3 separate regions of the Homo sapiens genome follow, and all the other regions are linked to region 1. Evidence: fine-mapped expression QTL. A gene starts in region 1. Each other region holds a variant in brackets. All regions are shown on one strand. Distances are between the middles of the regions.

Region 1 (8,630 bases):
TAAATCTAGCAATCAACAAATGTTCTCTCAGAAGTTACTTGCTTGAAACATAGCACAGCATTCTAAATGGTGCTTCCTCCCTTCATCCCCATTTCTGGTACTTAGGCTTAATAATAAACATCTCTACATACAGTACATACTTTATTTATTTATTTATTTTTTAGAGGCAGAGGTTTGCTCTGTGGCCCAGTGGAGTGCAGTGGTACAATCATAGCTCACTGCAACCTTCAACTCCTGTGCTCAAGTGATCCTCCTGCCTCAGCCTCCCAAGTAGCTGGGGTTACAGGCACATGCCACTATGCCTATTTTTGTTTTTTTTGCAGAGACAGGGTCTTGCTATGTTGCCCAGGCTGGTCTCAAACTACTGGGCTCAATCGATCCTTCCACCTCAGCCTCCCAAAGTGCTGGGACTACAGGCGTGAGCCACTGCACCTAGTCATGGTACTTATTTAAAAACCAGGCAGTAAGCTCCTAAAGGGCAAAAAGCATGTCTTTTACTTGTCTTTCCCATAAGAACCACCAAGCATAGTGCTAGCCCATGTTCGATGTTAATCCATACATATGTTGAAAAACACTCTAGCTAACTCATGTTGAAGATGCTCTACTAACCATTTAAGAGTTACTACTCATGTCTGGTTACACAACTTGAGTCTATCTTGAACTCTTCAAGAGGCAACCAATAAAAAAAGTTTAAAAAAAAAACCTCTCCAAATATTACATGAAAAACATTTTCATGTAAATAAGGAATGCTTTAGATTAATATGTGAAAATCATATACAGCATTGTTCCTTTAAGAAAGCAAGACTATTATCTGTGATGAGAAATCACAGTTCTAACAATGTGATGTTAAAAAGACTAATTTCTGAATAGTCCATAAGTTGAAGCATACTGCTATACTTGTTCACATTTACAACCTGTACCCAGAATGTTGTTTCTTATAGATCCTAATCCAACAATTTCATTCACTATGATTTTTCTTAGGGGGAAGAAGATTTTAAGTTTTGTTGTTTAACTTTTGAGGCAGAAAAATTTAAAGCTGACTGGTTAGGTATAAGGTTTCTTTCAAGTGAAAACAGACTAATCTCTAGGTTAATTCCAAGATAAAAGTCTTAAAATTAAACCTCTATTATGAAAGAGATTCTAAAAAGATTAAGCATGAAATGCACCCAATCCCTGCCTTATAAAAAATCGGTAAAAGCTGTATGAATAGCTTCCCACTTTTGCACATAGACCTGAGATTTAATATACATACAGTATATACATTTTGCACATGGGTATCTATATGTAGTGATTTAGAGGCAACACATCAAGGTAATTGAGTACTTTTCTCTCCTAAGTTTAAAAAAAAAAAGGTTTCTAAAGTGCTGCCTTAAGTTACCATAATTTGTGGATTAAAAGATATATTAATAATACCTAAGGGAAATTCCAGAGTACAAGCACCTGCCAGCCAAGTTGCCTGAAATTCATCAGCTGCGGAGATTAAAAGAATTCTTCACTTGTTTTTTATGTAAAACAAAGATAACATAATCAGTACCATGTAACTTCAATGTGGCATTTATAAAATGGCCAATCACTTATCATTCCTATGATTTAAAAAACCACTACCTAGTCTTAATTGCCATTAGACATCTTATAAAATGCACATAACACAGTGGATTTCTTATCTAAACATGCAACAATCAAGGGTACAGTTTGAATTTTAAGTTTTCACTTCACAAAATGAGTCACCATAGGATTCTCTGAAATAATCTCTTCTCTAAAATTATTCTGTTTATAAAGTACTCAATTTTTCTGCTTATAAAAATGTAGTTTTTTCACCATTTTTCAAGAATCTATCTAATATGTAAAAGGAAATACACACATACTTCCTTGAGAATAAATGCTTTCAATAGTTGTAACCCCAGAAGAACTTCACGTTTTGACTTCTTGTTTAAAAAAAAAAAAAGTTTTTAAACACCTACTAGAGTAGAAGTGCTTGCCTTTATATTCATGGCTCTCCTGATGGTAAAATAAAGATCAATGTAACTCTAAGCTCTAGGCTAATTAACTGCAGAGAACAGAAACAAGCAATTTGGCAAGAGCTGAGCAAAGCTCCGCTTAAAGACTACCAGTAAAATATACCAGCACTACTCCTCCCCCACCCCTTTAAGGTTTCAATTAAGATGGGGCCTAGTTTTACTCTTGCAAGGGGGACAGAAAGAGAAAGCACAGAGCTCCCACTGAGAAGTATCTTCATCAAGAACAGCTCCAGAAATACTGCCAGGAACCATTTCCTTCCCTCTCTGCAGATGCAGGTTCCTCTGATAGGCATATCTCCTCTGCTCCTGATTAACACCATATCTAAAGGAAAGTCTCATCACATACCACCCAAAGCATGGCATCAAATGAATTTTTTAAATCCAACATTAGGGTCAACAATGACGCTCTTTATGAAAAGTGTGAGCCCCAACTGCAATTCATCTTCATCTCTCGGTCTTTTGTATCACTTGCCTCATAAACTGGTTAAGAAAGAAGAAAGCTATTACAAAGCATAATCAATGTTTGAAAATAAACATTAAGTGCCCCAACTGGTGAGAAAGACTCCTCCTAAACACTTACAGAAGATGAAGCTTTAACAAGCCCTCCAGAAATCTTTAGAGCCAACACGAAAGAAGTTAAAGTGATCTCACCACTCCTACAGGATGAGGACCCAATACAGTATAAAGATAGCACAGCTCTCCACAACATCCCCTAAGAAGACACTCAATTTTTACTTTAGTATAAGATCAGCCCTTCAGCGGACATATAGGACAAGTTTTTCGGTCCAACACTTACTGTGAATAAACCAACGCATGGAGCTAAAAAAGAACCAGGGAAAAATGGATGTCTCTCTAAAAAGAGCCCAACCTAAGTAAGGAATTACAAGACATCAAAGGTTAGATAATGGACAACAGGTGCCTTTGAGGAGGAAAGAGTAACACAACACTCAGTTGCCTCCTATTTTAGGATTTCCACTCTGAAAGCAATATAACGACAATTTTTTCTGCCCAAGAAAAAGGGAAGGCCAAAATTATAGGTTTTACTATTTAATATCTATAATAGGCCCATTGCTCTTTGACTTACTTTTTTACTTTAGATTTTAAAAATCCATCTCATCTCGATATTATCTGGATATAGTACGGCCTATGGCCAGACTGCTCACTGATCAGTGAACATTAACCAAGTAGAGACTTATTATCAAGAAATGTAAAAGAAAGGCGTCTGAATACAAGCTACCTGCACATAAAAAACTCAAAATACAGTTCCAGCAGTAGGTATCACACAACTGCGTTATCAGCCAAAGCTGAAACTGTTTCTCTCACCATTCTAACAGTTGAACTTAATCTTTTACTAGATTTCAATGGCCTCGAAGAATAGTAATTCCAGATTCAGCTTCTAGGGCAGCGAATACTAGCCTGGAGTTTTGATTTTCCTAGCCAGAAGATTACCTTCATCTGGTGAAAGGAACACTGAAAAGGCACTTCAGCCTATTTAATAACCTCTTCCCTTTCTCCATTCCACAAAGACAACATCTTCCAAAAATGGAGAATCCTTTCCTTCCCTGATAGAGGCCCCCTTTCCTATTGATTCATTGGGCAGAATCACTTCTCCCCAGCATGTATGCAGAACCAGAAAACACTTCTGCTTTCACTCTTAAAGAGGGTCCCCCAACACAGATGCACCTCTTCCTTTCCTGCATTAAGCAAATGATGCTCCGATGCTTCTAGGTCTCTCCACCACTGCAAAATGCTCAGAGAAGTGGAGGGATTGAAAAGGAAGTTGCCTACTACTCTGAAGGATACTGGAAAGTCGCCTTCAAATCTAAAGTGAAGACTTGGGGGCGGGGGATGCCCCCTTCCTGAAGAGGGAATGAGGGTCCCTCCCCTAAAAAGGAGCCTCTGTTCGGGTGAAGGCGATCCCCACCCTGAAAGAGAGGCGTGTATGTGGAAAGGTGGTGGAAGGTTGTACCCTGAAGAGGAGCCTGGATTTGAAGAAATGTCCCAACTCTGAAGGGGGGTAAGTGGAGGGAGCCGTGAGTGTACGGGGAGGGGTGTGCCAGCTATCGGGGGGCCTGAGAAGGAAGGGGTTCCCACTTTGGGGGAACGAGGGCCCCGCACTGAAAGGGGCTCCGGGAGGAAAGGAGGGTCTGACACAGAGGAGAGTTGGACATGGGGGAGGGGCCCTCAGTCCACCGGAGTCCGCGGAGGGGCGGCAGCCTCGAAGGGAACATGTGCAGTGGAGCCGCTGCCACCCCGAGGGGCAGGCGGGAGGGCAGGGCCTGGGCTGTGTGCGGAAGGAAAAAAGTTCCTACCCTTCGCAGAAGACGCAGGACTCCCCAGCCGTACTCACCGAGACTGCCGGCGAAACCGTCCATCTTGCGGGGAAAGCGCCGGGCTCCGGGCTTAGAGGGGCGGGCACTTCATTCAGCGGACCGACAGAGTGGCCGACGCTGAGCCTGACCCGCTCGTTCTCTAGGTCGCCCGGCTCGGCTACCGGCTCCCGCCTCCGTCGTCCGTCCGTTCGCCCTGGGGTAGTAAGCCGCGGCCGCCCGAACCACTTCCCCGTCACGTTGAGAGCCGCGCCGCTCAGCCGCCTGCCCGGCCTCCCTCCCAGGCAGCAGCCGCGAGCGCCGCGCCGCGCCGCGCCCCGCCCCGCCCCCGCGCCCGCGCGCAGCAGTAGCCCCGCCCCGCGCACGCCGTCACACTTCCGACTCCGCCTCCCACGTGACGCCACGGAGGCGGGGTCTTGCCAGCCCCGCCCTCTCACCTTGCCTCGGCCTCGGCGTTTGTCCGCCTCGCGCCAGGCTGGTGGTTGCGCCTGCGCGGTAGGCCTGCTGAAGGCTGGGGACCACGGTTTGGAAGCTGGTTCCAAACAGGTGGGGATAAGGCATAGACTCTGGCCTGCGATACTCTGATGCATGAAGGATCCTCTCCCTATGTGGCCCCTGGGAAGCCCGCAGAGCCAAGACTGGACCCCCGTGACGGGAGATGACCACCACGTGGGTCCTACAAGGACACTAAAGAAGCAACCAAGAGGGAGAGGTTCTCCCTCTCCCCCAATAGGGTGGGGGACAAATAGGGGCGAAGCTTCTTGACTAGCTCGATACCACCACTGCCACAGCCGCAGGGCCCGGGACAGATCAGAAGCAAGGAATTTTAGTGCTGGACATGACCCAAAAGTTCATCTTGTCTAACCCTTCTTATGAAGAAAAACACAGAGCCTTAGAGAGGACAACCTGCCCAAGGTCATCGAACCTAGTAGAAGCAAAAACTCAGCCTTCCTTACTCTCCCTAGCGTTCTGTCGTCTAGGGGTGCAAAACGACCATATATGGCAGGCTATAGGATGGCCTGCTAGGGAACCATAATAAGGGTTATTTCAAATGAAGTAACACTGAGTTCTAGGCCCAACTCCGTATGACTCAAGAGTGTCAAATCACCTAATTTATTTAGGCGTCACTTTATTCATTTGCAAATTGGTTGTCTGGACATGTAACCAAAACATGTAAATATACATAGCGTTCATATTCTTCCTCCCTTCCCCAACACGATTTCCCATACTTCTAAAGACTTTCTCATGGTTTGTCAAGTCCCTCCTGGGGCTCAGTTGTGCAGATTAGAGTAAGAGAGAGAAGAGCTGTAAGGTACTGAAGAACTGAATTGATCTATACATAATAAATTGATAAATACATAATAAAAAGCTGAGTTAGGGGAAAACAGAGTCCTACTACACAGAGTTGCAGGAGAGAGGGACAAACAAGAAGGGAGACAAGAAATATGTAATGATGAGAGAGACTTAGAGGAATTAAATGATTGAAAGGATTGTTAAACCTTCTTGGGGTATACGTCTCCCTTTGTTGCCTCTTTAAAAATCTTCCCTAAAAATGTAAATTACTTTGCATTTCTTATTTGGATATAAGACCTGTTTCTGAATACCATACTATATGGAGACTGGCCATAACGCAGCCAAGATAAATTCAGGTTACAGACTAAACGGTGTCTAAAATTTCCTTCTCTTCAAACTTAAATGATTTACCCAATGTTCCTTCTGCTATGGGCATTTTCATATGCATAAGTTTCTATTAAGCCTAAGTAAATGTTTGAGAAGTTCTCAATTCTGACAGCTGTTCCTTTGTGTCTTCAGGCCACACTCTCTGCCTTAGGTCGATTAAAAGAATAAGAACTTGGCATATTGGTATACATATGTTTTATGGTCCAGACCTGGAAGTGTGTACCTCCCTTTTGTCCACATTCCACTGGCCAGAACTTGGTCACATGACTGCAAGGGAGGCTAGGAATGTAGTCTGTGTATCCAGAAGGAAAAGAGACATATTTTGGTAACAGCTCTCTGGTTTCTGCCACACTCCCCTTCGTGGCATTCATCAGAGTTAAAATTTTTCATTTGCTTGAATGATTTATTCAATAAGCATCTCATTCATTATACTGTATACTACAAGGAAAGCTGTTAAAATGTAGGAGAGTTAGTACATCCCAGCAGTTAAGAGTGCAGACTCTGGAATCATGCTGCCCAGATTCACATCCCAACTCATCATGTACTAGCTATGAAACACTGGACAAATTACCTAACCTCTCTGTGCCTCCATTTTATTGACTGCAAAATGGAGATGATAACACTTCTACTTCTTAGAGTTTTTGAGAGGATGCTATGAGGTAATATATGTAAAGCACTTAAAACAGGGCACAATATGTTATAAGTGCTCAGTAGGTATTAGCTGCTCTTATTTTGTACCTGTTTTTGCTCTCTATTATATACTTAGTGCATATTACAGAACAGCTTTTTGATAAATATTTATTGAATAATGAACAAACATAGAAGAATTCTGAAAACTAGTCAATCTGAATACATTGTTTCAACAACCAGTGCCTGAGTGTTTTAAAGCAGCCAGAATTTTTGTTTTATATTTATCAAAGTACATCTTGCAATCTAAGCCTCTAATACTACTATGATAAAATAAAATTTAACATACATCTTTCAAAAGTGAAACCATAGCTGAACATTATCAAACACACACACAAATACTAAGGTTCTAAACAGTTACGAATTACTGGAGGGTTATTTTGGTTATTCACCTTAACAAAGGATTTATCTTTAGATTATTTTCAATGTGGAGTTCCATTGCCCCTTTGAGCTCCTTAAGTATAACTTAATTCAGGCAAATGCAAAATATGTGCCGTTTTTCAGGATCCCAGTTATTGGAAAAGGCTAAATATAGCTGTATCAAATAATGAAAACTTAGAACATTCCCTTTATGGTTTTGGTTTTTGAAACAGGGTCTCACTCTGTTGCCCAGGCTGGAGTGCAGTGGCACGATCTCAGCTCACGGCAACCTCCGCTTCCCCGGGTTCAAGCAATTAGCATGCCTCAGCCTCCCAAGTAGCTGGGATTACAGTTGTGCACCACCATGCCCAGCTAATTTTTGTATTTTTAGTAGAGACAGGGTTTGGCCATGTTGCCCAGGCTGGTCTCGAACTCCTCACCTCAAGTGATTCGCCTAGCCTTGGCCTCCTGAAGTGCTGGGATTACAGGCTTCAGCCACCATGCCTGGCCAGAACATTCTCTTTATACATCGAATCTTGACTCTGCATACTTACCTTCCCCTCTATGTCAAGGTTAGTATGTTGTGGGAGGAGTTTCAGAATACTTGTGAAGATACATTGTCAAAGTCTTGACCTAACGTTTGAAGAAAAATAAGATTCCTATTCAATTTCTTTGTTTTACTCTCACTAGCTAGATGATCTTGAAAAGTAACTATAAACTGTTTTTGTCTGCTTGCTTTTCTCTCCCGCAGACATTTTAAAATAAATGCCAAGGAAAATTAAGGGTTTTTTTTAAGTATGCTGTGTCTTCAGTTCCTTTTATTTCATTATTTGAATGTTATTTAAAAAATGAAACCCTATAGTCATGGAACTATATAGATTGTATAAACCTGTAGTCCATGTAAGCACAAATTTGATAGAAAAAAATCAGAGTTAATACCTGAGTGGGGGAAAAAAGGGATTCTTCATTTTTATAATATGTTTAATGTAAGCAGTGTGTAAAAGAATTCCAAAATCTATAAGAAGCTAAATGGCAATGTTATTCTAGCTTCTAACCATAAAGAATGCCTAGGGAGAACTTCAAAATTATTGCAAGAGAAATAAAAGGAGTTTGAGAGGAGATACCCCAAAGTGTCAAAAGTAGCTGCCTCTGAGAAATGAAATTAAGTGGAAGAAGGAAAGGGTAGAGGAGAGATATGGGGGATTTCACTTTTATTTTATTTTAATCATAGAAGTATTCATTTTTTGAAAACATTAAAATGCAAAAACAAAAAATATATTTCACTGCATATTTAGACACTCATAAACTGTGTCTGTAGAGACTGGTTTAAAATATCATACTTATTTAATAACTGTTTTACCAATCTTGGCATGATGGTTATCTCTCTCGTAAGACTTTCCAGACTTGCTGACTTCAGGAAAGAATCAAGCAATTAGTAGTGCTGTAAATTCTTGGTGAGAACTTATGAGACTGAAATCTATCCTGTGGGGATCACAAGCCATACCTCACTTGGAGGACCTGCTGCATAGATGCATGAGTGAGTGAACGAATGCCT
Region 2 (8,369 bases), 67 kb after region 1:
GGCACGATGAGATGAGCTTCTTTGGATGCAAGGCAGATGATGGTGGCGAGGCGGTGAGTGTTGGGGTCGAGGAGAAGTTTCAGGGGCTCCTTCTTCCCACCAGATGGTGAAGGAGAAGGTTAGGAGAGTGTCTCTGAGTGATCCCAGCTGCAGGGGCCTCTCCTCCTCCTCTCCTATTCTCTCATCTTTCATCTTTTCCAAAGCTGCACCCAGCGGTTGTGACAATTCTGACTCTGCTACATTATTCACTGGCTTTAAAAGAGATTGAATAGATTTTTTGCTCTCTGATTACTGAATTTCCTGTTTCTCTGAAAGCCTGAAATGTACTTGATCACATCCACCCTCCTCCCCACCCCAGAGGGCACATCCGGGGCTCTGTTGACACATTTGTCACATGGGCGACTTTCAAAAACAGTCGGAGTTCAAATATCCACAGAGCTGAATGCCTCCCCACCCCCCAGAGAGGCATTTGGGGATGGTTGAGGCTGTCCCAAGGGCTATCAGATAGATCCTTTTAAGTAAGGCCTTTTCATTCATTCCCACATTTCCATATAAAACCTTCCCTCACTCTGCCTCCTCTCTGCCTGCCCATTAAACTGCTTTGGCGGGAGGAGCCTCCAAATTGGGGGAAGACAATTTTTGCTCACGTGGTCTGTGTTTCAGAGAACACAGCTGCTCACCATCTTGGTGAATGAGATCGTGCTTCCATCCTGGCTGCTCAAACCCAAGTTTATCACTGGTGCCTCCTCTTCACTCAGCTTCTCCTCTGGACGTAGCTTTGTCCTGATCAAAAGCCAGATCCATTCCTTTGGACTCGCTTATAGCCTAAGTCGGCAGCCATCTAATCACCTCCAGACTTTGCCTCTGACTATCACCCAAGGCACTGCCAAAGAAGAGTTGCAGGGAAGGGGGCCCAGGATGCTAAGAAAAGCTTGGTGTTTGCTGAATTAAGTGAGAGGATGAGCTCTTGGGAAACAGGTGATGTTTCTGTCACACACCCTAGTTTCATAACAGCTGTTTAAACACCAACTTCTCGTCTTGTGGTTTTATAGAACTGTAGAAATCTTTTCTGCTGTGCTCTGGCCATGGCCTGACGCTGTCTGGCGGAGCAATGCTTTCTCTCCGTAATTTACCTCAATTAATTTCCCTTAACCAGCTCTCAGAATAAGATCTCCATGCTGCGATGTGACTAGTTAGATTCAATAGTTACCTGTTTAGGGAATATTTGCATTTTGGTGTGAGAGGAGGGGTGGGCCAAGCAGTTGGTGAGAGAAAGAGACAGGATGGGATGGTGGAGCCTGTGGTAGACTGCAGAATACAGGTCAGTGTGGCCAGATTTTTAGTTTTGGGGAAACTGTTTACAAATCCAGATATTTCGGTATAATCTTCCAATTTAAAATTTTTGGTAATTAATTCGTTTTTAAAAAAACGCTAGGTGTACCAGATAAAATACATATTTGAGTCACCTTGGACCATGGACCAAGGTGAGGTAGCAGTGACATGCATAAATGGAAGCACACTTTTGGATTAAATGTGTTTGGTGTTAAGCACAATGGTTCTTTTATGGTTGATTTTTGGCAAAAATGCCAGTGGCGCTGCCCTGTGGTCCTGAAATCATACTGGAAAGGCTGGCCCAGGACTGACTCTGGCCTTGGTGACTTGCATCTAGTTCATTTGGAATCCGGTTCCTATGGATAGTTTCTTCCTCAGTATAGGTTGCCTGGGTCCCTCAGGAAAGCCATCGAATTCAATGTGAATGCAATCACTCAGGTCGACTAAAGGCAGGTGAGTGTAACAGGAAGGTCTTCCTCACTGTGAAGGATGGCTGAAGACTGCAATAGAGTCCTTTCCATCTCTGATCAGAGAGACTGGCAGAGTTTATTGTACAGCACAGGTTTAACACATGACCTCTGGAATCAGATCCGTGGGTTCAAACTTCTCCCCTATTAGCTGGGTGTCCTCGGGCAAGTTAATTAGTCTCTCTAAACTCAGATTTTTAATCTGTAAAACGGGGAGTTAATAGTTCCTTCTAAGTAGTATTCAGTGAGATGGCGCTTGCAAAGTGCTTCCGTAGCAGTTCCTAAAGTGTAAGCTTCTACATCAGAAATGGGGTGTGACTTCATGTTTAGAAGACTCACTCACTATGTTTTAAATTTTGCTGGGGCTCAGAAAATGATAAGTCAAAGTATAATGCCTTGGCGTGCTGAGTACTTTGAACTAAAGGAGATTGGAAGGCCTTAGAAGCAGTCTCAGAAGTAAAATCTCTCTCTGAACTTCTCTTGCCCTATTTCCCACCCCTTCTTCTCCCTGAATTCATAGAAACTAGAATTCCTCTTCCCTATGGCAGGTCATAATAACTAGAATCCCTTTCCCCCAAAGCAAGCCATAAAATCTAGAACTGTTACTCTAAGTTCCCCCTGCCTTTCTGTGTAGGCACTGGCCATGAAGAGATTCTCTGATCTACCTCTGACTGTGAGTTATAAGACCCGTGCTCCAGAAAGCCCCTGCCCCACACCCAGGAGGAAGGAATGCTGCTCAGAGAGGCCAAGAAGAATCTGAACAGACAGGCCTTGCTGGGTTTCTCCCCTCAGTCTGTTACCATTAGATCGCATCCTTTTGTCTATTTTTATGCTTAGGTTCAACGAAGAATGGACAGTGTGTATTTCTACCTAGGCATAAAAATAGACAGTTTTCCCTGGGTCACTGGGTTTTCATTTCTGAAGGCTCCTGTGTCCCATAAAACTTTGATTCGGTAAATTTGCTATGCTTTTCTCTTGTTAATCAGTCTTTTGCTATAGCAATGACCCTTATGAAGGGTGAGGAAAGGTATCTCACATCTTTTCTACCCCGCCCCCCCCCCACAATAGGGATTTATTGAACTGCACCACACCAAGTCCCAGACCCAGGAGACTGGGCTCAGAAAGTCCCACTGAGTTCCTAGGTACCAGCCTTCTGGTAGAGCAGCTTTCTTTTCTAGTGTGGCTCTATCTCTTCTTTGCATATGCCTTCAGCTTCTTCTTTCCCCTCTTTTAGGTCTACTCTGCCTCCAGCCTGTGTTTTAATCACATAAAAAATGCTATTAAAAATGTAGAATCAAGGGCTGGACAGAGTGGCTCAAACCTGTAATCCCAGCATGTTTGGAGGCTGAGGTGGGCAGATCGCTTGAGCCCAGGAGTTCGAGACCAGCCTGGGCAACATAGTGAAACCCCGTCTCAAAAAAAAAAACAAAAACAAAAACAAACAAACAAACAAACACAAAATTAGCCAGGCGGGCATGGTGGCACAGCGCCTGTAGTCCCAACTACTAGGGAGGCTGAGATGGGAGGATCGCTTGAACCTGGGAGGTCAAAGCTGCAGTGAGCCATGATCACGCCACTGCACTCCAGCCTGGGTGACAGAGCAAGACTGTTTCAAAAAGAAAAAGTTTAGAATCAAATTTTAGATTGTAAACTCTGATTGAGGTTGTTGCCTTCCAACTATGCTTATTCATCTAGAAAGAGAAGTCAGCATTTCTTGAAGTCTGGTCGCAGTATGGGGTCCCTGAGAGAAGGCCTCTCTAAAAATACCAGGGGGAGGGAGGGAGAGGTATGCGATTGAGAGTTAGGGAGGTGGTTCCAGAGAAGAGGGCAAGCCCTCAGGTTGGGCCGCCAGAGGCTCCCAGGAGAAGAAAGAAAGGGAAGCCAGGCCTGCATCCTGGTGGAGCCCGCTCCTCCCACCGCGGGGAGATCCGCCCTCAGCGCTGTGGTGGCCGGAAGTGCTGGTCTAGGGCGGGTGGGGGCGAGGGGCTGCCTGGGAGGTCAGTCTCCCGGCTGGGCTGGGATATTTATAGCACCTGGGTTTCTGGGTCTGCCTCCACCTGGATTTATTTATGCGGCCTGTGGCTGTGGCGCCTGTGGAGAATGAGGCGGGGTGGGGTGGGGGGGGGCGCGGATCTCGCTGCAAGGGTCTAGTTCTTGGCCTTGGGACTCTAGCTGGACTGGAAACGACAAATCACAACCAGGGGCTGTCTGGGGGAACACAGGCAGAGCAGCACTTGGTGCTGCGCCTGCAAAGCCGCCGATGGTTGGGCCTGTTGAAACTCGGGGCTTTCCAGATTCACGCGGTGTCGCCTTTGCGGCCGCCGTGGGCGTGGGTTAGGCAGGTGTGGGCGACGGGGAAGCGATCCCCTCCCCCGCAAGTCACCCCGGGCTCCGGTTCTCACGCCTTCCTCCGCAGCTCCTGGGAAGAATTAAAGGCGGAACAATGTTCCGTCTCCGGAGGGATCTGTACTTGGAAAGAGAACTCAGAGAGCACGTGGTGGCCGGCCCCATCTGCAGACCCAAAACTAGAGAGTCCACGTTTGCGAACCCATCTGCACTTTCGACTTTCCCTGATCACTACGTGTCTGGCTGCTCTCAGACTGCGATGACATCATTTAAAAAAAATGTAAATAACTGTCCTTTGGGTCTTTCAAGAACCTAGTGATTGAGGAGAGGGCAACGGTGAATCTCGAGGAAGGCTGTGTCGTGGGACCTTCAGGCATTGTTTAATCTGTGCAGGGCGCAGTCTTGGGCAGGCCCCAGCCCTCTCCTCTGCCCACTCGCAAAGCCCGGCCTGCTTGCTCCACCGGCAACTGGGCTGGAGGAGAGGCGAGGGGCAGGGTGGGTGCTAAGATCCTGTGCGAAAAGCCAGGACCCTCGTGGTACCTAGGGAAATGAAAATCGCGTTGACAGTAGTCCAACGCTTTCCTTTTCTCATTCACCCCTCGGGCAGCACAACGAGACAGGCACTCCTGCCAACGTCCCCATTTCACAGATGGAGAAACTGAGGCTTAGGCAAAGCAATTTGCCCCAGGGTGACGGAGCAAGCGTCAACTTCAGTTTCCAGCTCGGACGC[G/C]AGGGGCCGTCGGGGGCGTTCCGGGGAGGGGGTGCCTGGGCCGGGGGCGGCCACGCGGGGCTGGGAGAGGTTCCAGCAGCGGCGCGTGGTGTAGCCGGCGTCCGGCGGGACTGCACGGGCCTGGAGCCGCTGGAAAGGCCGGTCTGGTGGCCCGGGACGAGGGGGCGGCCTTCCCGGAATCCCGAGCAGCACGGCGGAGCCGGGGCAGCTGCCAGGCGCGGCTGGGGACCGGCTCGCGCTGCGGTTGGCGGCGGGCAGGCCACATACCGCGCAGCGTGGAGGAAATGGCTGGGATTCCTCCTGCGGCGCCGCGCGGGCCTCGGGGAGGGCGGGGCTCCCCCAGTGTGTCGGGGCGGGGGCGGGGCGCGGCGGAGGGTGAGCGGGGATCCTGGCGCTGGCGGGGGCGCCCCGACCTGAGTCCTCGTCCCTGGAGCGCTCCCGCCACTTTGCCAGCATCTGGGCCTCCAGAGCCCCGTGAACCCTCGAGAAGGGGAGCACGTGAAGGGGCTCCCCGGCCACGCCCAGCCTCCTGCCCAGTCTCTGCCTCAGGCCTAAGGGTTCAAGAGGGGCCTGAGTCACCCACCTGCAGAGCGGCCCTGCAGCCCCTGCTGATCCGAATCAGGCCCTGCCTTCTGGGGTGGCGCACGACACGCGTGGGGCCCAGCGAAGAGGATGCTGAGGACCTGGACGCTGCTCCGGACAGTGAGGCCTCCGCAGGTCCCAGTTTCAGCTTTGGAAAGTCCTGGCCACTGACGTCCTCAGTGTTCTAGGCCCAGCCTCAGGCCTTTCTGCTGCAGGCATGGTGGGCCAGGCGGAGTCGGCTTCTAGGGGATGAGGCTTGCCCTGAGAGAGAGGCCGGCCCCTTGTGAGATTGTTGGCTGCATTGTGGTGGGTGAAGTTTAGAGGCAGAGCCGGGAGGGTGGCACTGAGGTCAGTCTTGACCTGGGCCTGAGTGAGGAGGCCGCTTTACACTATACTGGGGAGTGGAGGCATGAGAAGATGGAAAACCTGGGGGTTGGGTTAGCTTGAGAAAGCTCCCAGCTTCCCCCGGACACAAGCAAAAACATGATTTGGCTGGGGAAGTGGAAGAGGGGAAGGTGAATTGAGGGTCTTAGATTGGGTCCCCTATAACATCTGCTAGGAAGGTGGCCCCTGGCACTTGGAACAGGGACTGATTGATGGATCCATGATCTCTTTCCTCCATCAGTCTCCACTAGGATGTCAGATCCAGTCAAGAGTGGCGTTTGAGAGGCGTTACCATCTGCCCTGCACCCCTAAACCCTTCCCGCTGCAGACTGCTGTACTGACACCCTCCTGCCCTTCTCTGGTTTCCAGCTCCAATGGCGTCTATTCTCTATGAATTATTCCTTGATCCCCGCAACTTCTACTCCTTCCATCTGCTTCCACGGCCACGTGATCGCACTTTTCACACTGGATCATGAATATTTGCTTGTGAACTTATCTCCCCAGCTTGACAATAGCTCTATAAGGGCAGAGATTGGCTAAATCTTTTATTAACTTTGTGGACCTACTGTCTTAGGCCAGTTTCCCGTTGCTATAAGGAAATACCCGAGACTAAGCAATTTATAAAGAAGAGAGGTTTAATTGGCTCATGTTTCTGCAGGCTTTACAGGAAGCATGGTGCTGTCATCTGCTCAGCTTCTGGTGAAGCCTCAGGGAGCTTTCAATCATGGTGGAGGGCAAAGGAGGAAGCTGTCATCTCACATGGCCAGAGGAGGAGCAAGAGAGAGCATGGGGGGAGAGGTGCCACATACTTTTAAATGACCAGATCTCGTGAGAACTCACTATGGTGAGGAGAGCACCAAGCCATGCAGGACCCACCCCCATGACCAAGACACCTTCCCACCTCCAACAATGGGGATTACGATTCATTATGAGATTTAGAGGGGATACACATCCAAACCTGCTGTCTAGAATTGTGCTTGCCTTACAGTAAATGCACCACCTGTTTGTTGAATGAATGAGAGAAAGAGGAAGGAATTGGGTGGGGACAGTATAAATGAAAGCAGAGACCAGAGGAAACACAGGCCAGATGTGAAACTTGCTAGAAAGCTCTCATCTTTGCTTCCTGCATACACAGAGAACTTGCTACCCAGACCCTGCCCTGCCCTTTCTTACCTGCCATTCCGAGGTGGGCCCAGTCCAGAGGGTCTAGCACCACCGCTTCCCCAAGACCACTCTGAACTGCACACCTTGATACTAACTTCAATGCCAACCCCCACTCTCTCTCTCTTACCCTGGCTTGAGGCTCTGAGTTTGGCTTAGTTGCTTTGCACCTGTTTCTGTAGCCCACCATCCCCCCACCTCTGCTCCCCATGCTGGTGTACCTCATTTCTCAGCTTAGGGCTCCACAAGGTGGATGGATCCATGATCTCTACATGAAGTGGTGTTGTCCAGCCATTTCAAATAAAACCAGGGCTTGGGAGGTATGCCCTGGCCCAAGGCTGGGGGCAAGCATGGTGGTGGCTTTGTCTGCCTGCCTCCAGGGTAGGATGGCTTCAAGCTCGGAAGCAGAACAGAGATGGAGTTTCCCAACTTAGCCCACATCACCTGAGCCCGAGTGGCCTGCTGAAGTTTCCACCACTTCAGGGACTTCCAAGTAGCCTGATCTAGGCCTGGGGAGGGGCTCCCTTCAGAGCAAGTCCTCTGCCAGGCCCTGGGAGGAAATAGGAGACCCGAGCCAGGTCTGTCCTGATGCACTTGCCCCTCCTCAGACCGGCCTGATGGGCGTCTGTGGGACTCAGGAGCGTCAGGGAATGAGATGTCACTTCCAACATTGCCTCTGGACACTCCTCCACAAGGAGCAGGCCTAGGAGGCCCTGGCAGACCTTTCACACAGACACAGGCAGACAGAAACGCAGCCAACTCACAGTGACAGCATTGGTTCCGGGAATTTTGAAAGTCAAAACCCCAATATTTTTTCACAAGAAAAAGGAACAGATTTTGGCATCTTTGCTTCAGAAACAGGAACTGACCAAGACAGTGACCTCTGATCATCACTTCCTCATTGCACTGCTCAGAAGCGGGTGGGCTCCCTCAGCCCTTTGACTTTCCCCTCAGGGTTCTGGGGGCAGAAGCCCCAGGGCTTTAAGGAACAGCAGAGGAAAGAAGAGAAGGGGAAGGAAAGGCATGGCAGAGGAGAGGGAAGGGAAGGAGAGAGATTTTCTAGGTGGTCAGTCCTTGAGGATTGAGGAGGCCAGGAGCCTGGTGGGGGTGGGGGGAGTTAGGGCCAGGAGGTACTTGGCACCTGGTAGGTCTCAGTGTGGCCTTATTTTTATCTTGTCATGGAAAGAGCATCAGTGTGTGGACCCTTTGAAGCTCACGGTTCATTGCTCCTGTGTCTTGTAGCATTGAAGTACAGCTGTCCACATTCACAGCAGACTTAGCTGTAGCACCTCTGAAAGTTGTTTTTGTTTTTTGTTTTTTGAGATGGAGTCTCATTCTGTCACCCAGGCTGGAGTGAAGTGGCGCGA
Region 3 (8,630 bases), 110 kb before region 1:
AAAACTTAACATAAGCCCTTCAGTTACATCAGTCGTATTCCTACTGAATTTTTCCTCTAGATTTCTAAAGCTTTAAAGATGGAATGAAATTACATGTTTTATTAAAGAAGAAAACCAAGAAGTGTGTTCAGTCTTAATTATGAGATCACACATCCATCTACTCTGGCATTTCAGGACTATAGTAATGTCTGAAATATTGAAATTGCTTCAAGTTGCTTGACTATTTTATCTTGTATAACTATAGTGTTAATATCTTAACGATTATGACAAATCACTAAATTTGCTGAATTTGGCTAGTAGATCTGCTTTTGCGACTTACGAATAGATAGTTCTAATACCAATATAGTTCCAAATACCTGCAAAACAAGTAACGTACTCTAAAACACAATACTCGGTTTTTTAAAAATTTACCTTTATTTCTGCTCCTTTTGCTTTCTTCTGCCAGTCCCATACAGTAAGCATATGCTCATTGGAGTCATCAATAATACATAAATGAACACCTGAATCCTAAAGAAAAGTCAATCAGAGGCATTTTAAAATTCACTGATAGGGCTAACATTCTAAGAAAGAAATACCATCTTATTAAAACTGCAAATAGTAAGATAACCCAAAATCCTTTAAACTCATCGCTCTCTGAAACATAATGAATACACTATTTACTACAATTGTATTTTCCTCAAAAATATAAAGATTCTTTTACAAAATATTCTATTTAAATCCCCTCATCCCTCCAGGTTATTTCCACTTGCCATCTAGTCACTCCTATTATTCAGAGATAGTGACTAATTTTGAGGCTATCCTAGTCCCTTCTGCATCTTATGCTTCCTTCTTGCTGCCTGTATTAAGCTATTTTTCCTTGTGGTAGGTAAGAAGAAATGTACACAATTTCATAACTTTGTTCCTCACTAAATTTTGACAGTTTGACAGAATAAGCTAAAATTCATGGCTATTTTAGAGTTTGCTGATTTCAGTTTTCTGTGAGATACCTGACTTACATTAACTTGAATAAACAACCTAAGTAAAATTATAATGAAATTCCTTTTTTATAATGAAATTTCCTGTTTTTCTGAAACCATTCTCATTCACGTATTTTAAGTATTCCAGTTTAAGAAAAATACCTATAGATGATATTAAATGCTTTTTAAAAATAGTATCATTTGTGAAATATGCTTTACAATGTTATGGAACAGAGAAACATTGTAGTGAAGAGTGAGAGGCACTGAGGAAGGGCAGAGCTTACTCTCTTCTCCTCTTTATCTCTTAGCCTAAATTGGAATATTATCTGAATTAGAAAAGATAGAGTTATGAGGCAATTCAAGATGGTCTTAACACCGTAACAATGGTTATCAACAACCTGACAACAGTTCCTGCTATAGAGATTTATGGGAGAAAATAAAGTAGCAAAAGTATTGCCTTTATGACCTCTTATCTCCTTTTCTAAATGTCCTTCTCCCAATTCCTGACTTGTTGGACCCTTGACATTCAGTGCCTTCAAGCTAGCAAAGTTCCTAAATTCACTAAAATTTATCTTTCTGCTCTAAAAGTGTCCTTTCCTCCATGTCCCACAAAACTCCCATAATCCAGAATACAGTTGCCAATGGCTAAGAACTGAAGAGATAATATGAATATATAACTGAGGTCACATAAAATCTACAGGGGTATTTATCTTTGAAACTAAAAAAGTATGTATCCTAAAATATAGAAGGTTGACTGTATACTTTATAATCATAATTACATACAATTCAAGAAAAAACCAGAATGTTTAAATGAGTAAGATCTTGTCTTATTTTACCCTTAGAATAAAGCCTCAACACTTAGAAAGGACTGCTGGGGAAAATTTTAAACCCATGTTGTCATCAATTCAAAACCAAGATAATTCAGGACTTCAGGAAATACAAAGGTCTGATTGTTTCTGCTGCTCAAATATGACATCAAGAAAAGCCAATATTTGTACAGAACTGGCCAAGTTTGCTGTGAATTTTTAAAATAAAATAGATCTTTTCTATGATTCAAGGTAAGGCAAAAATGCATCCTATTGCTTGTCTGAAATTGTACTATGCTTTGTATATATTCCTCTAACCACTTCCTGCTACTACATGGGAGCTCTACCTCAAGGCAGCATAATTCCAAGAATAATTAAAGTAAAATATCTTGCATCCTAACTAAACCAAAGTACTTTAGGACTTAGGTCAAAATGCTAGCCATTTAGCAATAGCTAATATGTTAGCAATAGCTAGCATCTCATTTTTCAACTCAGGATTATCACTTCATGGCCACATAAACACAAAACTGAGCTTAACTTCTTTCCTGCTTTTTTGTTCAGCTTGCTTACTTCTCTAAAAATTGTTACTTACTGCTTTTGAAAAATCCAGGCATCCTACTCCACGCTCAAAAGTGCCAAGTCCAATAATCTGCAGTGTGGATAGAGTAACAGAATCCCACACTCTGACGTGGGGTTGTAGAGGCTGCAAAAACACAAGACAGCAGAGCAACTGGACAGGTGGATGCAAATAAACACCAATAGCACACAGAACTAATGCCATTTAAAAAAGTAATAGGGATGGATAAGCTTCTAATAAATTACTAGATTTAGACATGCCTCCAAATGAATCTTAAGTAGGTATTTTCTTATACTGTGAAAATAAGAAAATAGCAGCAAATAACTTGTGTATTTACTATGTTACACATACTATTCTAAGTATTACACATATTAATTCATTTAATCCTATGCACTACAGGTACACTATTATAATTATCATTTAACAGATGAAGAAATTGGAATACAGAGATTTAAATAACTTGCCCAAAGTGATACCGCTATTAAAAGGTTGAGTCGGCCAGGCACGGGGGCCCACACCGGTAATCCTAGCACTTTGGGAGGCCGAGGCGGGCGGATCATGAGGTCAGGAGATTAAGACCATCCTGGCTAACAAGAGTGAAAACCCATCTCTATTAAAAATATAAAAAATTAGCCAGGCATGGTAGTACGCGCCTGTAGTCACAGCTACTCAGGAGGCTGAGGCAGGTGAATTGCTTGAACCTGGGAGACACAGGTTGCAGTGAGCCAATATTGTGCCACTGCACTCCAGCCTGGGAGACAGAGCAAGACTCCGTCTCAAAAAAAAAAAGAAAAAAAGAAAAAAAAAAGGTGGAGTCAGGATTCTAATCCAGGCAAATCTGCTCCGGATACTTTTGCTTTTAGTATTACTAATCTTCATTCCTGAGAAAATAACACATTTTATCAATGTCCAATAAACTGCTAAACAGCCCTTAAATAGCATTTGAAACTGGAAGGGGTCTTAGAAGTTATCCAGTAGAAACCTTCTACTCCTTTTCTTTAAAGAAACTGAAGCCTGAGAATGTCATGAGTATAGTCATACATACGTTACTCAGTCACCATTAATAGTCACTGTTGATCCTTAGAAATAAGGTATTTGTTATACAAACCAACTGAATAATATTAAATAGTAACTGTAACTCTTTAAGTTGTATCAGTTCTAGTCACACATAAAATCAAGAGTTAGCCGGGCATGGTGGCACACACCTGTAGTCCAGCTACTCACTCAAGAGGCCAAGGCTGGAGGATCACTTGAGCCCAGGAGTTTGAGCCCAGCCTGGGCAACGAAGTGAGATTCCACCCCTATAATTAATTAATTAATTAATTAAGAAAGTAAATAAGAATCAACAGGTTCATCAACTAAGGGAAACTGCAGTACCTTCCCGCAGACACTGGTTACTTTATATGTTATTTTATATAAAGAAAATGTAACGAGCGTATCAGTTTTCCCATTTTTACAGTAAATAGCTTCTTAAGGGAGAACACTTATTTTTTAAAAACAAAATTTATTAGTATGACTCTGTCTTTTAAAGTGTTCTTATATCCTAATGTTTTTTCCATGCTTATACTAGAAATTCCTCAGTACTTAAATTTTAAAAGAATAAAACAAATGAGTTGTGGTTAAAATTACAATAGATTCCACTCTAACAGCAATGTCTCTAGGTACAGAAGGCATAACACTATGCCACTCACCCTTCCATCTTTATCCACGCCAGCTATCTGTCCAGTTGCAATCCTAATTTTGTCAGGATGTATAGCAAGGCTAAAAAGCAGTATTAAGAATGATTTTAAACACAGGAAACATGAAACAACAGAATACCTTTGTACTGACATTTTTCAAATAAGCAGTTTTTAATCGTTAAAAAACATACGTTTATCTGTTTTCTTCAGCAAATCAAACAATCATCAAATATCTGAAGATTTCTGAATTTTCAGCTGTACTTTTTACTTGTTAAGCTGCACAGATTAATGAAACACTAAGTTCAAAGAAAATATTTATAACTGTGGCATGCTAACGAACTGTTTTCATTTGCTGAAGTTCCTTTCTAGTCCACGCACAATGGCATACAAATCACACGACTTTATTATAGTGAAGATGCAATATTGTGCTGTTTAATTTTAATCTATTAAAGTACAAGCATTTTTTCCTTTTGCTACATAATCCTCATACATGCTGACTTGACAACTCTTCCATCTTTTAGGCCATTTCTTACTTTTCAACA[A/C]AAGAAAACAGCAATGAGCATCTTCACACATAGTGCTTTCAATCTTTTAATTAGTTCTTAGCGCTAAATTCTTGTAAGTCAAACTGAGGCAAGGAATTTTTAAATAGAAATGGGAAGTAGCGTAGCATATGTGCCTAAATTACTCACAGCACGTATATGAGTGACTAGCAAATTTCTGAAAAAGACATCTTTATGTCCATATCTAGACTCTTTCAACAACGGTTGTACACTGTGAACATTCTCTTGCTCTTAAATATTTGTACTTAAGAACACATCAGAGGGATATTTACATATTAATACATAAAGTGCTTCCTCATTCTTTACAGCTACATGGTGACCTATAGGTACACTACAACCTCACCAGTAGTCCCCAACTGAAAAATACTTAGGCTGTTTCTAATCTTCATCACAAACAATGCTGCAGTAAATAGTTTTGTACATACATTATTCTGCAAGTGTAAAAGGCAATATTTTAATCAACTCCAAAAGTTCAATATCTATATAATATTATAATAGTCATCTATTAATTTTTTTCTGGATAAAGATACAGGTGCCAGCATAGTACAGACATAAAAGCTTTTAAATGTTGGAAAACATCCAGTCAGTCCTTGGATCTAAGTGGGGAAAAGGGTAATAAATAAAAAATAAAAGTTGGAAAATATTAATAAACAATAAATAATTGCATTTAACTAAAAAGTAACAAAATAATTTAAAAGCATTTAAAAGGAGTTCTCACATTTGTAGTATGACATCCTACGGCATACTTATGATCCTTATTCAGCTAGATTTCTTTCTTCCCAAAAGAATAAAGCTTCAAGTATAAAATTTATCTACATAGGACAAATCCTCAATAAATATCGAGTAACCAATAATCACTTTCAGAAACCTGAAAATGTCCAGTCTGTCCCATATATGTTTCACACTACAGACCAGAGAAGAGAAGGACTGTACGACATGAGAAAGCAGAAGAGGTTCCAATCATGATTTATGGAGGATGTGTTTTGTTGCTGCTGATACCACACCACCATTTTGGAGGCCGAAAGTCCTTTTTTTCTTTTTAAAATATATTCAACAGATGACCCATAATATTTTTACATTCTGAGCTTTCCACAAGAAATCACTTTCAATAAAACCCAAATTTAAAAAATACAAAATGAGGGCCTGAAAGAACAAAAATGAACCAATGTTAAATGATACCAACCATTTCACACAGTCTGTATGGCCCAGGTAGTGTCGCTGAGTTCTCTCCTCATAATTAAATAGTACTACTACTGATGCAATGAAATAAACTATTTTCCCGGTCGGAAGAAGGTAAACATTAGCTCTACAGTCCTTTCCTCGATAACCATATCTTAACAGAAAAAGAGTCAAGGTTTTAAATAAACACAGTTTTCAAGTTGTTAACAGATTTTTCATGGATACTTAAGGAATTAGGAAGGTACAATGAAGAAGACTGAACTAGAACTAGAAAACTCATGTCCTGGACGGGCAGAGTGCTCACACGTGTAATCCTAGCCCTTCAGGAGGCCAAGGTGGGAGGATCACTTCAGTCCAGGAGTTTGAGAGTAGTGCGGGCAATAGTGAGACCCCATCTCGACAGAAAATAAAAAAAATTAGCCAGGCATGGTGGCCTGTGCCTGTAGTTCCAGCTACTTGGGAGTCTGAGGTGGGAGAATCACTTGAGCCCAGGAGGTCAGGTCAAGGCTACAGTGAGCAGTGATCGTGCCACTGCACTCCAGCCTGGGCCACAGAGACCCTGTTGCCGCCCACCCCCACCCCTCCACCAAAAAAAAGGAAAACTCATATCCTGCCATTATCCCTAGCGTAACCTGACTCTTTCAGTATGTTAAGATCTTAGTTTCCTCATTTACCAGACAAATATGTATTGAAATCCTAATGTGTATCAGGCATAATGGTGAACATTCAGTTCTGAACAAAAAAAATGTAGGCCCTATGTCTCTAGAGCTTATCCTCTGGCAAAGAAAAAAAAAAATCACCAAATATAAAATTACAAATCGTGGGGGGGTAAAAAAAAGACTGCTAGGAGAAAGCCCAAATGGAGGACCTAATTTAGATGGAGAGAAAAAGAGAGAGAAGGGAGGGACCAAAAGAAGGCCTATCTGGAAAAGGGATATTTATGCTGGACCTAAATGATAAATAAGTAATAGCAAGGAACAGTTTGGTAGGCAGAATGTTTGTTAAAAATATGTTGTACAGAATGAAAGGATTGGTGAGTGTGTCCAAGCTGATATCTGCCTAAGAAGGGAATAATTCAAGGGACGTGGGAGGAAGTGCAGGAGAATGGAGGCAGACAACAGAGTTCAAACTACCAACTCCTTCTGTTTCACTGAGTTTCTTGGAGGTTCTAAAAGAAGTGAAAATTTCTAGGTGAAATTAGGAAAGCTCTCCTTTAACAGTCATTTAAAAAAAAGTCTGGCTGAAAAGTTAATTCTGAATTAGAATCAGCCTTGTTAATTTGAGGTTACAAAATGCTTAACTGATGTTTTCTTATTTAATTCCTACAACAGCCCCTGTGAGGTATGGGTTATTAATTAACCCCTTTTATAAGTAAAGAAAGTTAAGGTTCACGGAGAGTAAGTGGCAGGGCCAAAACTCAAACACTAGTCTTCCAGTTCCAGTCTAGTGCCTTTTCTAGCAAGTACTTGCCATGATGTTCAAAAAATATTGTTTATCCTTTCCAAAGATATAAACTTTGATGGCTTTAAATTGCTAACAGCAAAGAATTAGAGATAATGTCTCCTTTTTTTTTTTTTTTCTTTTGAGACAGAGTTTTCCCCGGTCGCCCAGGCTGGAGTCCAATGGCGTGATCTTGGCTCACTGCAACCTCCGCCTCCCGGGTTCAAGTGATTCTCCTGCCTCAGCCTCCCGAGTAGCTGGGATTACAGGCATGCACCACCACACCTGGCTAATTTTTTGTATCTTTAGTAGAGATGGGGTTTCACAATGTTGACTAGGCTGGTCTTGAACTACTGACTTTGTGATCCGCCTGCCTCGGCCTCCCAAAGTGCTAGGATTACCAGCGTGAACCACCGCGCCTGGCCTGATGTTTCCTTTTTAATTTTTTAAGTAGCTGTTACTTTTTTTTTTTGTATAAAGACAATTTTGACAGAGAATACGTTAACTGATTTGTTAACTAGAGACAAAGCAAATGAATTTGCTGTCATGGTAGAGAAGGATACGCCCACTCCAGTTTGAGCTTCTCAGGAGGCAGTTCCGTTCTGATGTCATCATAGTTGTCAACATCGGAAGGAATGAACATGGTAATTGGCCGACCGCGCATAAACATTTTAATATATTCTCCTTCTGTTGAAACACAAGACAAAAGTTAAGTCATACGTATTTTCTGTATAGTCATACAAAAGTGGATTATTAACGTGATACAATAAAAACAAGACAAAAATGACTACTTCAAAGTTTTAGTCTCATTATATACAATTGTTTTTGTTATATAGTTGTCCTGTATCCACGGGGGACTGATTTTAGGAACACCTTCCTCAGATACCCAAATCCATGGATGCTCAATTTCCTGATACAAAATGGCATAGTATTCACATATAACCTGTATATTTTGAATCATCTCTAGATTACTCATAATATGATGTGAATGCTATGTAAATAGTTGTTGTATTGTTTAGAAAATAATGACAAAAGTCTGCATATATTCAGTATAACAGACAATTTTTTTCCCCAAATATTTTCAACCCATGGTTGGCTGAATCTGTGGATGTAGAACCCATGGATACAGAGGGCCAACTACATTACACAGCATACAGAAAACAAAGTGATACTATAAAGTCCTAGTCTAAAACATTGTAGGGAAAAATAAACCAATGGCCATTTCCTTAACTGAGAATAATTTTTTGATAATTAAAATATAATTTATCTAAGTTGACACATTTCTACAAGAAGTCCAGGAAGGCTGAGTAGAAAAATGCTAAAGAAAATTTTGTGACAGCAGTTTTTCTAACACTTGAAAAGAAGAGTGAGATTATTTGGATAGACAACAACCATGTCTACCACGCTACTGGATGAACCTACAGATGTTAAAC

The links. PIP is the estimated chance that this variant, and not a neighbour inherited with it, causes the effect. A credible set is the group of variants that fine-mapping cannot tell apart.
Region 2: its variant is the best candidate, but not a certain one, in a credible set for the expression of EML4 in whole blood (TOPMed, PIP 0.75).
Region 3: its variant is the best candidate, but not a certain one, in a credible set for the expression of EML4 in sun-exposed skin (GTEx, PIP 0.85).

The regions. Positions count from the first base shown.
Region 1 is chr2:42,165,375-42,174,004 of GRCh38, reverse strand. It overlaps EML4 (EMAP like 4), which reads right to left and starts at 4,652. Exons shown (of 23, transcript NM_019063.5): 1 at 4,369-4,652. The coding sequence starts at 4,393. It overlaps EML4-AS1 (EML4 antisense RNA 1), which reads left to right and starts at 3,774. Exons shown (of 4, transcript NR_110584.1): 1 at 3,774-4,035. RefSeq lists silencers at 4,641-4,700, 4,801-4,850 and enhancers at 4,266-4,918, 4,931-5,070.
Region 2 is chr2:42,098,187-42,106,555 of GRCh38, reverse strand. No RefSeq gene overlaps it. Among named protein-coding and RNA genes, the nearest start is that of PKDCC, 54 kb to the right of the region's middle. RefSeq lists enhancers at 178-227, 3,982-4,501, 4,426-5,253, 5,472-5,551, 7,025-7,084 and 1 more and silencers at 4,912-5,291, 6,815-6,904. The variant G/C (reference allele first, on the strand shown) is at 4,876.
Region 3 is chr2:42,280,104-42,288,733 of GRCh38, reverse strand. EML4 (EMAP like 4) reads right to left here. Exons shown (of 23, transcript NM_019063.5): 7 at 7,761-7,884; 8 at 5,762-5,911; 9 at 4,031-4,100; 10 at 2,355-2,465; 11 at 412-507. Among named protein-coding and RNA genes, the nearest start is that of COX7A2L, 77 kb to the left of the region's middle. The variant A/C (reference allele first, on the strand shown) is at 4,561.